Regions from separate parts of the Homo sapiens genome. Here region 1 is linked to region 2. Evidence: fine-mapped QTL for protein levels in blood plasma. Region 2 holds a variant in brackets. A gene starts in the other region. All regions are shown on their reverse strands. Region 1 holds the start of GZMB (granzyme B). Region 2 overlaps SLFN12L (schlafen family member 12 like).

What was found. A credible set is the group of variants that fine-mapping cannot tell apart. PIP is the posterior inclusion probability: the model's chance that the variant is causal. The UK Biobank Pharma Proteomics Project read protein levels with antibody pairs (Olink). The fine-mapping took linkage between variants from a reference panel, not from the people measured, so its PIPs are less certain.
Region 1: GZMB starts here. The variant in region 2 is the best candidate, but not a certain one, in a credible set for the plasma level of the GZMB protein (UK Biobank, PIP 0.63).

What each region holds. Positions count from the first base shown.
Region 1 is chr14:24,629,576-24,637,909 of GRCh38, reverse strand. It overlaps GZMB (granzyme B), which reads left to right and starts at 3,720. Exons shown (of 5, transcript NM_004131.6): 1 at 3,720-3,804; 2 at 4,848-4,995; 3 at 5,451-5,586; 4 at 5,792-6,052; 5 at 6,696-6,956. The coding sequence starts at 3,750. The coding sequence ends at 6,839. GZMH-AS1 (GZMH and GMZB antisense RNA 1) reads right to left here and starts at 4,808. Exons shown (of 3, transcript XR_007064087.1): 1 at 4,562-4,808; 2 at 1-3,614. RefSeq lists an enhancer at 3,142-4,341.
Region 2 is chr17:35,475,277-35,483,610 of GRCh38, reverse strand. It overlaps SLFN12L (schlafen family member 12 like), which reads left to right. Exons shown (of 5, transcript NM_001363830.2): 3 at 3,416-4,494; 4 at 5,426-5,536; 5 at 8,126-8,334. Among named protein-coding and RNA genes, the nearest start is that of SLFN13, 31 kb to the right of the region's middle. The variant C/T (reference allele first, on the strand shown) is at 3,767.

The DNA.
Region 1 (8,334 bases), not on the chromosome of region 2:
AAATTAGGTAGTCTAGATGAAATGGACAAATTACTAGAAACACAGAAACTACCAAAACAGACTCAAGAAGAAATAGAAAATCCAACCAGATGCTCACTTCATCACTGCTATTCAATATTGCACTGGAATTCCTAAACAGAGCAATTAGGTAAGAAAATGAAAGAAAAGGTATCCAATTATGAAGGAAGAAGTAAAACTATTTCTATTTGCAGATGACATGACTGTATACAAAGAAAATCCCAAATAATCCACACAAAAACTAGTAGAGTTAATAAGCAAATTCAACAAATTTCAGGGTACAAAATCAGTTGTGTTTCTATACACAAACCCACAATGAACAATAAAAAAAGGAAACTAAGAAAACAATTTCCTTTATAATAACATCCCAAAGAATAAAATACATGGGACTAAATTTAACCAAGGAAGTGAAAGAATTGTACACTAAAAACCACAAATAATTGCTGATTAAATGGAAAGATGTCCCATGTTCACGGATAGGGATACTTAATATTGTTAAATGGCAATACTTCCCAAAGCAATCTATAGATTCAATGCAATCTCTGTCAAAATTTCAAATGGTCTTCTTTGCTGAAATGGAAAAGCCAATCCTAAAATTCATATGTAATTCCATAGGATCCAAAAAAGCAAAACCAATATTGAAATAGAAAAACAAAGTTGGAGTACTTACACTTCTCAATTTCAAAACTTACAAGCTACAGTAATTAAAACAGCATGGCAAAGGCATAAGGATAGACATATGGATCAATGGAATAGATTCAGAGTCCAGAAATAAACACAACATTTATGGCCATTTGATTTTTGATAAGGATTGTCAAGGGGGTCTTGAACATTCAGTGGGGAAAGAATAATATCTTCAACAAGTGGTGCTGGAACAATTGGATAGCCATGTGCAAAATACTCTAGTAGACTCCTACCTTATGTCACATACAATAATTAATTTAAAATAAATCAATCCTAAATATAAGGGCCAAAACCATAAAACTCTTAGAAGAAAACAGGCGTAATCTTCATGGTTTCTGATTTGTCAATGGATTCTTAAATTTGACACCAAAAGCACAAGCAACAAAAGATAAAATTGATACATTTGAATGCATAAAATTTTTTTAATTTGCACATGGAATGACAATATCAAGAAAATGAAAAGACAATCTGCAGAATGGGAGAAAATATTTACAAGCCACATATCTGATAAGGGCTGAGTATCCAGAATATATAACAAACTCTTCCAACTCAACAATGAAAACAAAAACAACGCAATTTTAAGAATGGGCAAAGGACTTGAATCAACATTTCTCCAAAGAAGATATGCGAATAACCAGCAAACACATGAAGTGATGCTCAACATCATTACTCATAAAGGAAATGTGAATCAAAACCATATGACATACTACTTTACACCCATTAGGATGAAGATAATAATTTTAAAATAACAAGTGTCAGCAAGGATGCAGAGAAATAGGAACTTTCCTATGTTGCTGATAAGCAATGCAAAAGGGTACAACCACTGTGGAAAACAGTTTGGTGGTTCCTTAAAAAATTAAAAATAGGATTATTGTATAACTCAGAAATTCCAAAAGTATATATATTTGGTATATATCCAAAAGAACTGAAAACATATTGTTCATGCAGAAATTTGTACACAAATGCTTATTATTGCTGCATTAGCTACAATAGCCAAAAGATGAAAACAACCCAAATGTCCATTGACAGATGAACAAATAACTTGTGGTATAAACATACAATGGGAATATTATTTTTCCATTAAAAAGAACGAATACTGGCATGTGCTACAGCTTGTATGAATCTCAGAAACATTATTACAAGTGAATGTAGCCAGCCACAACAGGTCATGTATTGTGTGATTCCGTTTATATGAAATATCCAGAGGTGGTGGTTGCAGATTTTGAATGTGCTAAATGTCACTGAATTGAATACTTTAAAATGGTTAATTGTATGTTATGTGAATTTTACCTCAATTTTTTAAATGGGTCATAAACTTATGTTTAGCATAATCCCCTTTTAATTTTAAAAAATGCAGATATTACATGAGAAAAAATGTGCTAGAGCATATTTCAAGACATTAAAGATGGTTATCAGTGAATGATGAGAAATTAGGTAATGTTTATTATTTTCGCTTTGCTAAAATTATTTAAAAATTACTTGCATATTAAATTTTTTAATGCCTAGGAAAGAAAGACTATAGTTGTATTGACTAAGATTTCTACGAGCATGGGGAAAATGCTTAATTTGTAGGGTTAATCAAGGATAAAATAAATTGCATTGTATGTACAATGTGATCCCAAGTATTTAAAACACACTGCTTATGGTAACAGTCAGTCTGTGGGAGACAGGTTAAAAAGTGATATTTTCCCTTCCTACTTTCCAAATTTTCTTAACAAACATATATTATGACTATAATCAGAAAAAATTATTTTTAAAACGTCTACTATGGGGCAAGCTAGGTTCAAAAAATAGAAGTTTGATAAATGTAGTTGGCTTGCTATTGACAAGGAAGACGTTTACACTGGAATTCTATATTTTGAGATATACCATTCCTCATAGAAAAATTTCCTCACAGAAAATATAAAGGTGGAAACAAATCACAAGAATCGAACCATGTAGAGAGACTTAGTTGTCTTTTAACAGAATTGGGCACGGGCTGTTCAGAAACAACAATCTTTCACATCCATTATAATGATAGCATTAGTGTAGTTTGTTTAGCAAATGTTTACTGTGAGCCTGTTATGTGCTGAGCCTGCTATGTAAGAAGTGTGGCTCTCTGGACAGGAGACAGAATACTAAACAACACAACTACTGATCTTTGGCTGCCTGGCATGCTTCCTCACTTCATATGGTATCAGCAATTTAGCACCACAAACGTCCTTTAGAGAACCAGCCCTTTCTCATTCTTGGTTCTAGTGGCTTGAGTAGACTGACCCCAGCCTACCCAAAGTGGATTTGACTCCTAGCAATTCATTAATCTAGCCCAATAAAATGTCAAGTACAGGACTTTTATTGAAAGCATTCAGAAAAGAGGTGGACTCTCACACTAAACATTTGTAACTAAATAAGGGATGTTAGAAATTCTCTAGAAAGGAAGCTATGATAATAAATGGGTTGCTAGATGGGTCTAGTAGATGGTGGCCATGCTTTGTTACTGCCTTGTGTATTGTGCTACCATAGCCCTCCCCAAACTGTACTCTGGCTCCTGGCATTTCCGTCTCTTCAACCAGATGGTCAGCTCTCTAAGTGAAGGAGACACATCTCCAACATGCTTGGTTCTAGCACAACAGAAGGGCTCAAACACATACCTGCTAAAGAAACTATCCTGATGGATTTAGCAGCATGGCCATGAGGCATTGGCGGTTCTATCACTGGGAACTCAGGTTTCTGGTGCTCCAGTACCTCTACTGGCTGATACCACATCCTACAATTCACTTCATAGGCTTGGGTTCCTGCTCTGGGCTGAATAGGTGGTCCACTCTGAGTCATCAGCTGTGGGTGATGATGTGGTCACTGCATGATTCTCACACAAGCACCCAGAGGACGTCATCAGGCAGAGGCAGTGGGGGTGGGCAGCATTTACAGAAAATCTGTGATGAGACACCACAAAACCAGAGGGGAACATGAAGTCACTGAGCCTGCTCCACCTCTTTCCTCTCCCAAGAGCTAAAAGAGAGCAAGGAGGAAACAACAGCAGCTCCAACCAGGGCAGCCTTCCTGAGAAGATGCAACCAATCCTGCTTCTGCTGGCCTTCCTCCTGCTGCCCAGGGCAGATGCAGGTGAGTGACCGTCTCCACCCTCGGGGGCCCAACCCCATCCCACAGGTCTCCTGCCCTTTCTCCACATTCCTGATCCATCTATCTACCAGGAATGTTCTGAACTCCAGCTCCCATTCTACCAAGACCCCCCAAGTGTGATGCTGGATAAGCTATCAGCAGGAATGGCAGAGCAGCAGGCCATTCTCAAGAAGAGCCAGTGGGTACTATCCCTTCCCCAGAGCCCACCTTTGTCACCTGGAGAGTAGGACTTTCCTAGAAGTAAATGGCAGAGGATGGGAAACTAGAAAAGAGAAATATTAAATTATTCTAGAGTAGGCCTGGCTTCTGTTTCTGGGATAAGACAGGTGCTTCTCTCACTGTCTACTTAGGAGAGAAACCCAGAGCTCAGCTGACAGCAGAATTGGTACAATCACTGTCCTCAGAACACTGTTAATGTGTTTGCTCAGTCCCATTCTCCAACTCTGCTTTTCTTCCCTGGCCTTTGGTGGCTCCCCTCTTTCCAAGGATGAGGCACTACGGCAGGCCCCAGCTTCCCTGCTTTCTAGAATTCCACCAGCACTGCTCTACCAGCCCTCATCCAGAGGCTAACTGGAGCCAGTCCATCATGCAGCCATGAACATTTACTGGGCACCCACTACATGTCAGGCTCTAGGAAACAGGATATGACAGTATCTAGATCCCTCCACTTACACCCTGGCCATTAGAAAGCAGCACTATCCTAGACACCACAGGACTCATAAGGGTCTTGGAAACTCACCTGAAACAAAGCAAAGTCAGGAGAGGAATGATCAGGAGCCTCTGGGATTTCACTGTCCCTAAGACAGGTATGCTCGCCTTCAACTACATATGGAAGAAAGATTTACAGACCAAAGTCTGCTGTTCTTCCCTTTTTCAGAGCAGGAAATTGAAGCCCCTTCCTCCAGGCCACTCCCAACTCCAGGCTATCCCAGGCTCCCAAATGCCCAGGAGTTCTGGAGCCACTAAGCAGGTGCCCACCCAGCAGATTCCATGGGTGCCCACAAGCAGACAGACTTTTCCTTCAGGGGAGATCATCGGGGGACATGAGGCCAAGCCCCACTCCCGCCCCTACATGGCTTATCTTATGATCTGGGATCAGAAGTCTCTGAAGAGGTGCGGTGGCTTCCTGATACGAGACGACTTCGTGCTGACAGCTGCTCACTGTTGGGGAAGGTGAGGAGCAGAAAACAGCCCACACCCTCCTGGAAACACTCCACAGAGACCCCTGCCTTCTTCCCAAGGAGCTCCCTGGGCTCCTGTGAACACACATGCCAGGAGGTCTCCTTAGAGGGTGAGAAAAGGGCAGTTAAGTTTGTGGAGAGAGGGGAAGGTTGGTTCCAGAGGTGCTGCTGAAGTAAGAAACAGCAGAGTGACCAAGCCTGCCATATTTAGAACTGGGGGCATACTTTGGCATAGAATACAAACTGAAGCAATTCCACCTGTGTTTCTAGGGGGAACCGAACCCTGAGAAACCTGGTGCAATTACCAGAATTCCAATTCCTGGGGACCGACTGTCCCCTTAATTTCCCCTCAGCTGCAGCCCTGCCCCAGCTGTCACCTGCTCTTCACTGTCTCTGGGCTGTATACCCTGTGACTCCACCCCCATCCTCACTCTGCTCTCTGTGCAGCTCCATAAATGTCACCTTGGGGGCCCACAATATCAAAGAACAGGAGCCGACCCAGCAGTTTATCCCTGTGAAAAGACCCATCCCCCATCCAGCCTATAATCCTAAGAACTTCTCCAACGACATCATGCTACTGCAGGTGAGGCACACTCCTGCCACTCTTGCTCTTCTTGGTCCAGTTGGTTCCACTCCCCCTGGAATGCCGGCCCTTCCCTCCTTTCCATCCTGGCCTCTTGGTTAGTTCCTATGCCTCAGAGGAGAGGGAAGATTGTGCAGCCCCATCACTGTGTCGGGGCCCAGAAGTTCGTTGGCTGACCTGGACTTTCTTGCCTCTTCCCCACCAGCTGGAGAGAAAGGCCAAGCGGACCAGAGCTGTGCAGCCCCTCAGGCTACCTAGCAACAAGGCCCAGGTGAAGCCAGGGCAGACATGCAGTGTGGCCGGCTGGGGGCAGACGGCCCCCCTGGGAAAACACTCACACACACTACAAGAGGTGAAGATGACAGTGCAGGAAGATCGAAAGTGCGAATCTGACTTACGCCATTATTACGACAGTACCATTGAGTTGTGCGTGGGGGACCCAGAGATTAAAAAGACTTCCTTTAAGGTAAGACTATGCACCTGCCTGGATTGGCTCTTGGGAGAAAGATGTTTGGGGAATATCTGAGACCTGGAGACTCAAGTAGTGGGGGACTCCTTCACCCACTAGACTGTGATATTTCTCTCTGGAAAGAGAAGAGGGGACTAGACTGAGCTGGGGAGAAATTAGGGCCTCTGCAAACTTACCAGGAGGCTTATGGTGGATGGTGCTTCTTTGGAAGGATGAATTTGCAACACTCCACCCACTCCAGGTCACAGATATTAGGAAACTGTGCCCACTGGGGGTGCAGTAATTATAACCAGGTGTGTCTTCAGAGGCTGGTACCCAACGTGGTTAATGGGCTGGTCCTCCATGGTGGACATCAGCCCTCCTTGCCCACTTCTGGGTCCTTAAACAGCCAACGGTCCCACATACCTCCGATCTCAGGATCTGGGGGACATGACGGAGGCTGGCCCCTGGGATGAGGTGAAGCAGTAACAATGTCCAGGGCCAGAGCTTGGCAGCTGGGGGCCACCAGCGGCCTGCCCTGCCCTCTGGTCTCCCACATGTAGGCTGTGCAAGTTGGCCTTTTCTAAAAGGGGGCTTGAGATGGAAGAGAGGGCAGGACCCGGAGGAGCATCAGCTCAGTCCTTCCACTCTCTATTCACAGGGGGACTCTGGAGGCCCTCTTGTGTGTAACAAGGTGGCCCAGGGCATTGTCTCCTATGGACGAAACAATGGCATGCCTCCACGAGCCTGCACCAAAGTCTCAAGCTTTGTACACTGGATAAAGAAAACCATGAAACGCTACTAACTACAGGAAGCAAACTAAGCCCCCGCTGTAATGAAACACCTTCTCTGGAGCCAAGTCCAGATTTACACTGGGAGAGGTGCCAGCAACTGAATAAATACCTCTTAGCTGAGTGGAAAAGCTGGTTTCTTGTTTATTCATTGACCCTCATTCTCAGGCACCACATCTGCGCTATGCAGGCCAATGACACAATTTTGCTGTTTTCTGCTTTCTCCTCTCCCCTCACCCCTTGCCACCTCCCCAAACCCCCACATGAAGCTGATACTCAGCTCCTTCCTATCCACACCAGTTTCTCCAGGGCCTGCCCTTCTGCCAAGGCTGAAGCTGAGCACCATCAGGAGACAACATGGACCACTTTGGTCCTGGGGCTTTGGGTAAACTTCTTACCTCCTTCTCCAGTGTTACATGACAGAGAAAAAAGGGATAATACCATGGGACCTAACTCCTCATCCCCCACTGGGGCTCCTCATTCTCCCCTGGGCTTAGTTTCTCTACCCTCCTCTGAGCTCAAGGCTCAGCTCGTCCTCCAGCCTCTTGGCTGCCCCTTCTCTTCATCCCTGCTGAGTGTTCTCAGAATCCACCAACTCTTGTCCTCTCCAGACCACACTGATCTGATCTGGCCCCTCCCTCATATCTACCCACCTAAGATACCCAGAGACCCATGTGGTTCCATAAGGGCCTTGCCACTGAGACGCCAGCCCATCTCATGCCCTGGCAGAGAGGGGCCTCAGAAAAACCAGGCCTGTGTGGCAACCAGGTAAGACCCATGGAGGACAAGGCTGGCACGGTCTCTCTCCAACCCTTGGCTCCATCTCTCCCCTAGGTAGGGCCAGCTCAACCCCTCCCATCCAGCCCAGTGTCCTCCCATACACTCAAGGTTCACTGCCCACCTGGGCAGTCAGCAGGCTGAGCCCCTTTAAACCTGTTCCTCTTGGTCACTGCTGGCCTCTAGGCTAAGATTCCCTGCTAGCCACCTGGGCTACATCAGCCCTTTGAGTTCAAAAGGACTCCTTTCTGCAGAAGGACTAGAAAGCACAATCTTTTCTATCAATCAACAAACAAATACTCATTGAGCACTTACTATGTACCAGGCATAGAGGATAGTAAGAGAACACAATAACAGACTCTATCATCTGAACCCAAGTGAAACTGACAATGTTGAGAATTTTCATCCAAATTGTTTCACTCACTTTCTGTCCTTCAGATTAGTTCACAAGAGCGAGATGTATATGGAAATCCATGGGATTAAAGTATTTGTATCTTATTTTTATTTCTGGTTTTTCTGAGGCCCCTCCCTGCCAGGGCATGAGGTGGGCTGGCATCTCAGTGGCAAGGCCCTTATGGAACCACGTGGGTCTCTGGGTATCGTAGGTTGGAAGATATGAGAAAGAGGCCAGATATTCACACAGTTTGTATAAGTATTGTCACGTGCGACCCCAGAACAGCAATGTATGGGATTTGAAAACAACTTTAATCATTTACTTTCTAGACATGAAGT
Region 2 (8,334 bases):
CACAACAAAATACCATAAATTGGGTGACTTATAAATAACAGAAATTTATTACTCAGTTCTGGAGCCTGGGAAGTCCAAGATCAAGATACCAGCATCATTGGATTCTGGTGAGGACCTTCTTCCCATTGCAGACTGTCAACTTCTTCTGTGTTTTTCATATGGCAGAAGGGGTGAGCTTGTGTTACAGGATCTTCAGGGTGTTGATTTTCTGGCCAGAAACCTCTGTGGCTGGCGGCACCTTTGCCAGAGTTCTTGTCCTGTGTCCAGGAAGAATGAGGTATGCAGACAAGTGAAGGGTGAACAAGACGAAGATGAGCTTTATTAAATGTTAGGACAGCTCAGAGGAGACCTGCAGTGAGTAACTCCTCTCTGTAGGCAGGTCATCCCATGGAATGTTCAGCTCTCAGCAGAGGGGAGGCCCTGGGGAGGGTAGCTTCTATCTGCTACTGGTCCTTCCTACGTTTGCTGCTCTCAGCAGAGAGGAGGCCCTGGGGACCGTTGCTTCTCTCTGCAGCCAATGTCTCTTCAGGTCTCTGAAGCGCTCAGCAGAGAGGGTAGTTCCACTCTGCGGCTGGTTGTCCTGTCCTCTCCTGCTATCAGCAGAGAGGGTAGTTCCTCTCTGAAGTTGGTCCTCTCTTCATCTCTTCCTCCTCTGCCCCTGCTCTGGCTGAGCCCAGGGCTTTTATGGACCTCAGAGGGGAGGAAGTGTGTGCCATTGGTCCACATGCAGCCCCAGAAGAGGCACCACAAGTCCCCACAGTCTACAGCACTGGCAGCCCGGTCCCCAGCCTTCAGGCCCTCCCAGGCCTGAAGGTGTGGCCCTACTGGGGACCCGCCGCCTTTGACCCAGGAATCTGTCTGCCTCCCACTGCCATTTATGTCTCCGGAGTTTGGCCAGCCTTTGCTCCCAGATCAGAGTGGGCACCGACAGCAGGGAGAAGGAGAAGCCAGGCAGTGGGAGCAGGCACTTCTGAGCCTGCGAGGGCAGGGGGATCTTCTCAGGCCCCAAGAGTGCAGAGATGCCTGAATCTGCAATCTCGATTTGGGTGGCTGCAGCTGCATGGGGCAGGGTTGTGGGGCAGGATTCTAGCATGCTGCAGAGAGCGGGAGGCCTGGGTCTACAGTGGTGGTTTGGGTGGCTGCAGCAGCACCTGGGGAGCTCACGTCCCAACTTGGAAGAGGCAGGGCTCCCACGGGCTCCAGAAAGTGTGCAGCCCTAGCTGCCCCTCCCTGCTGCAGCCTTTGTGATGGCAGGCTGCCATCCCTAGCTTTCTGAAGTCCCTTTTAGAAGAGCACTAATCTCATTCATGAGGGATCTACCCTTTAACCTAATCACCTCCCAAACGCCCATCATGTTGGGTGTTAGAATTTCAACATATGAATTTTGAGAGGATGCAAACATTCAAGGTAGAGCACAGGTGTTTTGTATATAAGAATATTACCTTGACTGGGCATTGTGGCTCATGCCTGTAATCCCAAAACTTTGGGAGGCCAAGGCAGGTGGATCATCTGAGGTCAGGATCATCATCGAGACCAGCCTGGCCAACATGGTGAAACGCTGTCTCTACTAAAAATACAAAAAAATTAGGCAGGCATGGTGGCAGGTGCCTTAATGCCAGCTACTTGGGAGGCTGAGGCAGGAGAATCCCTTGAACTCAGGAGGTGGAGGTTGCAGTGACCTGAGATTGTGCCATTGCACTCCAGCCTGGGCAACAAGAGCGAAACTCCATCTCAAAAACAAAAACAAAAACAAAAAACAAACAACAAAACAAACAAACAAAAAAACCAATATTATCTGTGGGGTCCAGCCCTACAGGGTCTGTGGGTTTTTCTCCTCGTGTGCGGAGACGAGAGATTGTAGAAATAAAGACACAGGACAAAGAGATATAAGAAAAACAGCTGGGCTGGGGGGCCACTACCACCAAGGTGCGGAGCCTGGTAGTGGCCCCGAATGCCAGGCTGCGCTGTTATTGATTGGATACAAGACAACGGGGCAGGGTAAGGAGTGTGAGCCATCTCCAGTGATAGGTAAGGTCACTTGGGTCATGTGTCCACTGGACAGGGGGCCCTTCCCTGTTTGGCAGCCAAGATGGAGACAGAGAGCACGGCTTATGCCATTATTTCTTCTACGCATTTCAAAGACTTTTAGTACTTTCACTATTTCTGCTACTGCTATCTAGAAGGCAGACCCAGGTGTACAGGGTGGAACATGAAAGTGGACCAGGAGCATGACCACTGAAGCACAGCATCACAGGGAGACGGTTAGGCCTCCAGATGGCTGCGGGCAGGCCTGACTGATGTCAGGCCTTCCACAAGAGGTGGTGGAGCAGAGTCTTCTCTAACTCCCCCGGGGAAAGGGAGACTCCCCTTCCCGGTCTGCTAAGTAACAGGTGCCTTCCCCAGGCACTGATGCTACTGTTAGACCAAGGTCTGCTAGGTGACGGGTGCCTTCCCTGGCGCTGGTGTTACCGCTAGGCCAGGCAGCCCTCTAGAAGCCCTGTCCGGGCGTAACAAAGGGCTCACACTTGTTTTCTGGTCACTTTTCATCATGTCCCTTCAGCTCCTATCTCTGTATGGCCTGGTTTTTTTCTAGGTTATAATTGTAGAACAAAGATTATTATAATATTGGAATAATAATACCACAAACTAATGATTAATGATAATCATATATAATCATATCTATAATCTATTTTTAGTATAACTATTCTTATTCTATATATTTTCTTTATTATACTGGAAGAGCTTGTGCCCTCAGTCTCTTGCCTTGGCACCTGGGTGGCTTGCCACCCACGATTACCTCCTTGTAAACGTGGATGTTTGATAGGGAAAGGGCACAAGGAGTTGGTCTGTTTTGCTTGCGATCAATGCCCAAAATTTGTGAATCTAATTCATTCTTATAAGAATAAAAAATAATTAAGATTATTATTGCTGGACCCTCTTAGACCCTATCTGGCAGTTTTCCAAAAGGATTTCCCATAAAAGGAGATAATTAATGAATGTAAAAGCTAAAATTATTAAAATAAAAAGTAAAGAAGAAATAATATGCATGACTAAAACCTTGTCCACTGAGAAAATAAAAACATAGAATCCCTCCAGGGATTTACTTAAAGAAAGAAGAGAGAAAACAAATTGTACAATATTAGTGATGAGAAAGGACACAACGAACACATAAAGACAAGATTAAAATTATTAGAATAAGATCGTATAAAACAGTTGTAACAAATTTGAAAATTCAGTAGGAGTATAAATTATCACAGCCTTAGCTCAAAATTTGTTAGAAATTAGTTATCTCAGACCCATATACTTACCAGTCTAGTGGAAAATATACAGTAAAGGATTTTTCTACGTTTGCCTCATAATGCAGAATTTGCTGTCTCTCAGGCTTAACTCCTATTCTAACGGCTCTATTTTACAGAAAAGAATTTCTGCGTGGAAATGGCTTAGCTGCTGGGAAAATGAACATCAGTATTGATTTAGACACAAACTATGCTGAGCTGGTTCTAAATGTGGGAAGAGTCACTCTTGGAGAGAACAATAGAAAAAAAATGAAGGATTGTCAACTGAGAAAACAGCAGAATGAAAATGTCTCACGAGCTGTGTGTGCTCTGCTGAATTCTGGAGGGGGAGTGATCAAGGCTGAAGTTGAGAATAAAGGCTATAGTTATAAAAAAGATGGAATAGGGCTAGATTTGGAAAATTCTTTTAGTAACATGCTGCCATTTGTTCCTAATTTCCTGGACTTCATGCAGAATGGTAACTACTTTCA[C/T]ATTTTTGTGAAATCATGGAGCTTGGAAACCTCTGGTCCGCAGATTGCCACGTTGAGCTCCAGTTTGTACAAGAGAGATGTAACGTCTGCAAAAGTCATGAATGCTTCTGCTGCACTGGAGTTCCTCAAAGACATGGAAAAAACTGGAGGGAGAGCATATTTAAGACCAGAATTCCCTGCAAAAAGGGCCTGTGTTGATGTACAAGAAGAAAGTAACATGGAAGCCTTGGCTGCTGATTTTTTTAACAGAACAGAACTTGGTTATAAAGAAAAATTGACCTTTACTGAATCCACACACGTTGAAATAAAAAACTTCTCGACTGAAAAGTTGTTACAACGAATTACAGAGATTCTCCCTCAATATGTTTCTGCATTTGCAAATACTGATGGAGGATATTTATTCGTTGGTCTAAATGAAGATAAAGAAGTAATTGGCTTTAAAGCAGAGAAGAGTTATCTTACTAAGTTAGAAGAAGTAACAAAAAATTCCATTGGGAAACTGCCTGTGCATCACTTCTGTGTGGAGAAGGGGACGATAAATTACTTATGCAAATTCCTTGGAGTATATGATAAAGGAAGGCTTTGTGGATATGTGTATGCACTCAGAGTGGAACGCTTCTGCTGTGCAGTGTTTGCTAAAAAGCCTGATTCCTGGCACGTGAAAGATAACAGAGTTAAGCAGTTGACCGAGAAGGAATGGATCCAGTTCATGGTGGATTCAGAACCAGGTTGAGGAAGGAGGATTGGCAATAAGGATACCTTTGGCTTGGGTGGCAGGAAGGTTTTATTGTATCTTTGGGATTAGGGACAAGATTAAAAGTCTTCAAATTTCAACATCTCTGGTGGATACAACCAATACTTCCCTGCCTCTTGTTTTCTTCTGCACACTTAGAAGATAGATATTCCATACAATAACTAAATATCTACTCTTAGTAGCCTTATCTGATGCAAAGATTCTAGATGTTTCTTCTCTACCATTTCTTTACTCACTTTCAAGGAAAGCCTGTTCAATTCTTTTCGTTTTTCTTTCAGGGCTCATTTTCTGTAACTAACCATTGCTTTCTTTTGGGAACACTTACTCTTTTACTTGCTTGCTCTTTCATCTTTCTTTACCCACTTTCCATTTATTTCCTGTAAAGACTTCCCCTCTTCCTCTCACATTTATGAGCCAAAGAGTAACCTAAATTGTACCAATAAGAGAAGAATAATGCTGATATTTTATCTGGTTTTGGAAAAGGAAAGCCTCCAGTGAGATTAGACCAGAACTAGCAACTTACAAAATCTCTGAAAATGCAAACTTGTTCCTCAGAATCTGCATAAAACCCAGTTTTCCTTCACTAGCCATCACATTCTTCTAATTTTAACTTGTTTTAAAATAAACTCAGTTATATGGCAATGTATTAAATTGCTATCAATGCATTTTTACTGTTAATTTTCCTTCCAAGTATAGAGTGTTTCAGCAGCATCAAGAGTTAATTTTACAATTTGTATCTGACCTAGGAATCTAACCACAATATGTAACCACAATATCTAATGTTCTGTATTGGGAATGCAGGATCAGTTCTAAGTAGACGTTTGGTATACTGTGCATTAGTTAGCTTGAGTCTCTCCCATGCCAAATTAAGAGCGTGATTTTTGTTTTCTAACATTATTCCATAGTATGTGAGGAACTGCCCTCTCCAGCAAGTACATCATCACCTGTCTCCCAGAGTTATCCTCTTCGTGAATATATTAACTTCAAAATTCAGCCACTGAGATATCACCTTCCAGGTAATTTAATTCTGGCTTCCGTGGAGTTGTTGGTGTAACTGTGTTCAAACCTCCTTCTCTTCAAACCAGCTCTGTCTTGATATTTGTTATGGAAGCACATTCTTTTGTTTATGGAAATTCTTTGGTGTTTTTAGTCATTGAATTTGTCAAATTCTATTTCTTTAGGTGCCTAAGTAGGGGTAGAATTGTTCGTTCAGGCAGTGTGTGAATATTTAAGTAATAAGATAATGTCAAATTATTTCCAAAGTAGATAGCTCACTTTACTTCCACCAGCAATATATTGGAAATGCCACATCTTTTCCAATGCCAGACTTCTCTCTTCATCTTTCTACTTGAACTTCTTTTCTCTTGAACTTCTTTTCTTCCTCAGTCAAATCGGTATTTATTTGGGTATATACATGGAAGAAAATATCTCCCATAGAAGATATTTTATCTTCTATGAAGTGGCGATTCTGTCTTTTGCTCATTTTTGTAATAGGCTTTATCTTTTTCTTACTGATTTCTAGGAGCAATTCACAGATTCTAACATAAAATCCTCGTTTAGTCACAGATAGTACAGATTTCAGACGTCTTCTCCAAGTTCATGACTTGCATTTTCTCTTTTCCCAAGGCATATTCTCCCTAGCAGTTTTAAATTGGATATAGTCAAACTTGCCATTTAAAAATTTTGTGGTTTAGTGCTCTTTGTGCCTTGTGTAAGAGATCCTTCCCTACCCCGGGGTTATAAAGATATTTCTGTTTATTTTCTTTTAAAAATTTTAAAGTTTTGCACTTAACATTTAACATTTAAATATGTAATCCACATCCATAAACGGTGATGTAGGGGGCTATTTCATTTTATCCCATGTGGATAACCACTTTTCCTAGATCCAGTTACTGAAAACTCAGTTTCACCTGCTGATCGCCACCTCTGGGATATTACTGCATACAACTGACCCTTGAACAAACTGGGGCTTAAGACCACCAAACCCCTGATGATTTTTATCCATTGATTTCAATTTTCTGAGCCTGTAAGAGGATCAGGACATCTTCATCTTTTCACCTATTTTATTTTTGGGGGGTTTTAAAAAAGATGTAACAGTTATTTTAAAGTCCCTCTTTGATGACTCCAATGTCTGAAGCACTTGCCAGTCTTTTTCTATAATCCAGTTTTTCTCTTATTTTCTAGTAATTTGTTCTGATTTTTATCCTGTCTCTTAATTTTGTATAGTATTATGGATTACAAATTGTAGAGACTTTAGTAGATGTTACATTTCTTCAGATAGGGTTACACATTTTTTTTTTTTTTGGCAGACAGAACACCAGTGATAACTTTTACTCTTTTGAAGTTTTGTTTTATGCTTTTCTAGGTATAGTAGCTTTTAATTTTGCACTAATTACTAGGTCATGGCTCTTCTGGGGTCTTAAAGTCTGGGGTATTTACCAAGACCCTTCTACTTGGCTGGGAGTTGAATTACAATTTGTGTTTCCTGAGCACCGTGAGGCTGATGAAAGTGATGTTCAGCTCTTTAATCTCCCAGTTGATCAGTTGATATTTTCTCCTTCCTTCCTTCTTTCCTTCCTTCCTTCCTTCCTTCCTTCCTTCCTTCCTTCCTTCCTTCCTTCCTTCCTTCCTTCCTTGCTTTCTTTTCTTTCTTTTTGTGACAGGGTTTCACCATATTGCCCAGGCTGGTCTCAAACTCCTGGGCTCAAGCAATCCACCTGCCTCGGCCTCCTAAACTGCTGGGATTACAGGCATAAGCCACCACACCCAGCCCTAGTTGATATTTTCTTCTGTGTTTCTAGCATCTCACCTGTATTAGCCAGTGAGTTGAGGGAAATTTGTGGGTAGATTTTGGCTTCTTCTCTTCAGTTTCATCTTCTCTGGGATTTTGTTTCTGAAATCCCAGCTCCTCTGGCAGCCCTGAAGTCTGACCTCTGTTTTCTTTAGCCCAGTAAAACTGCTGATTTCTGCATGGGCTCTATTTACCCATGCTGTGATATGGAAAATCTCCTTAGGGAAAAAGCAGAGGTGAATGTGAAGCTACTTCCTGTGATTCTTCTGTATTAAAGATTGTAGCCCTTTAAGTCCTGCTTGTATTGGTTGCTCTCCAGTCCTTTAAATTATAGTTTTATGATATATATATATACATATATATAAATTTAAAAAAATATATATATATGTAGAATTTTTTTGAGACAGAATCTCATGCTGTTGCCCAGGCTGGAGTGCAGTGGCATGATCTCAGCTCACTGCAGCCTCAACTTCCTGGGCTCAAGTGATCCTCCCACCTCAGCCTCCCAAGTAGCTGGGACTACCAGCATGCACTACCATGCTTGGCTAACTTTGTAACCTTTTTGTAGAGAAGAGGTCTTACAGTGTTGCCTAGACTGGTCTTGAACACCTGGGCACAAGTGATCCTCCTGCCTCTGCCTCCCAAAGTGTTGTTATTACAGGTGTGAGCCACCATGCCTGGCCCTGATACACTTTTACATAGCTTTTATAGTTGCTTTTGGTGGGAGAATTAATCTAATACAAGCTGCTTTGTATCCATGGCTTAAGTTGGAAGTTCTCAGTCTTTTATAATTTATCATTATTTCCCCATCTAGGGCTATCAGAAAAGATAACTTGTGCTCCAAAAACCTTCTGCAGAAATCTGTTCTCACAACATGAAGGACTTAAGCAATTAATATGTGAAGAAATGGGCTCTGTCAATAAGGGCTCACTGATCTTCTCTAGGAGCTGGTCTTTGGATCTGGGCTTGCAAGAGAACCACAAAGTCCTCTGTGATGCTCTTCTGATTTCCCAGGACAAGCCT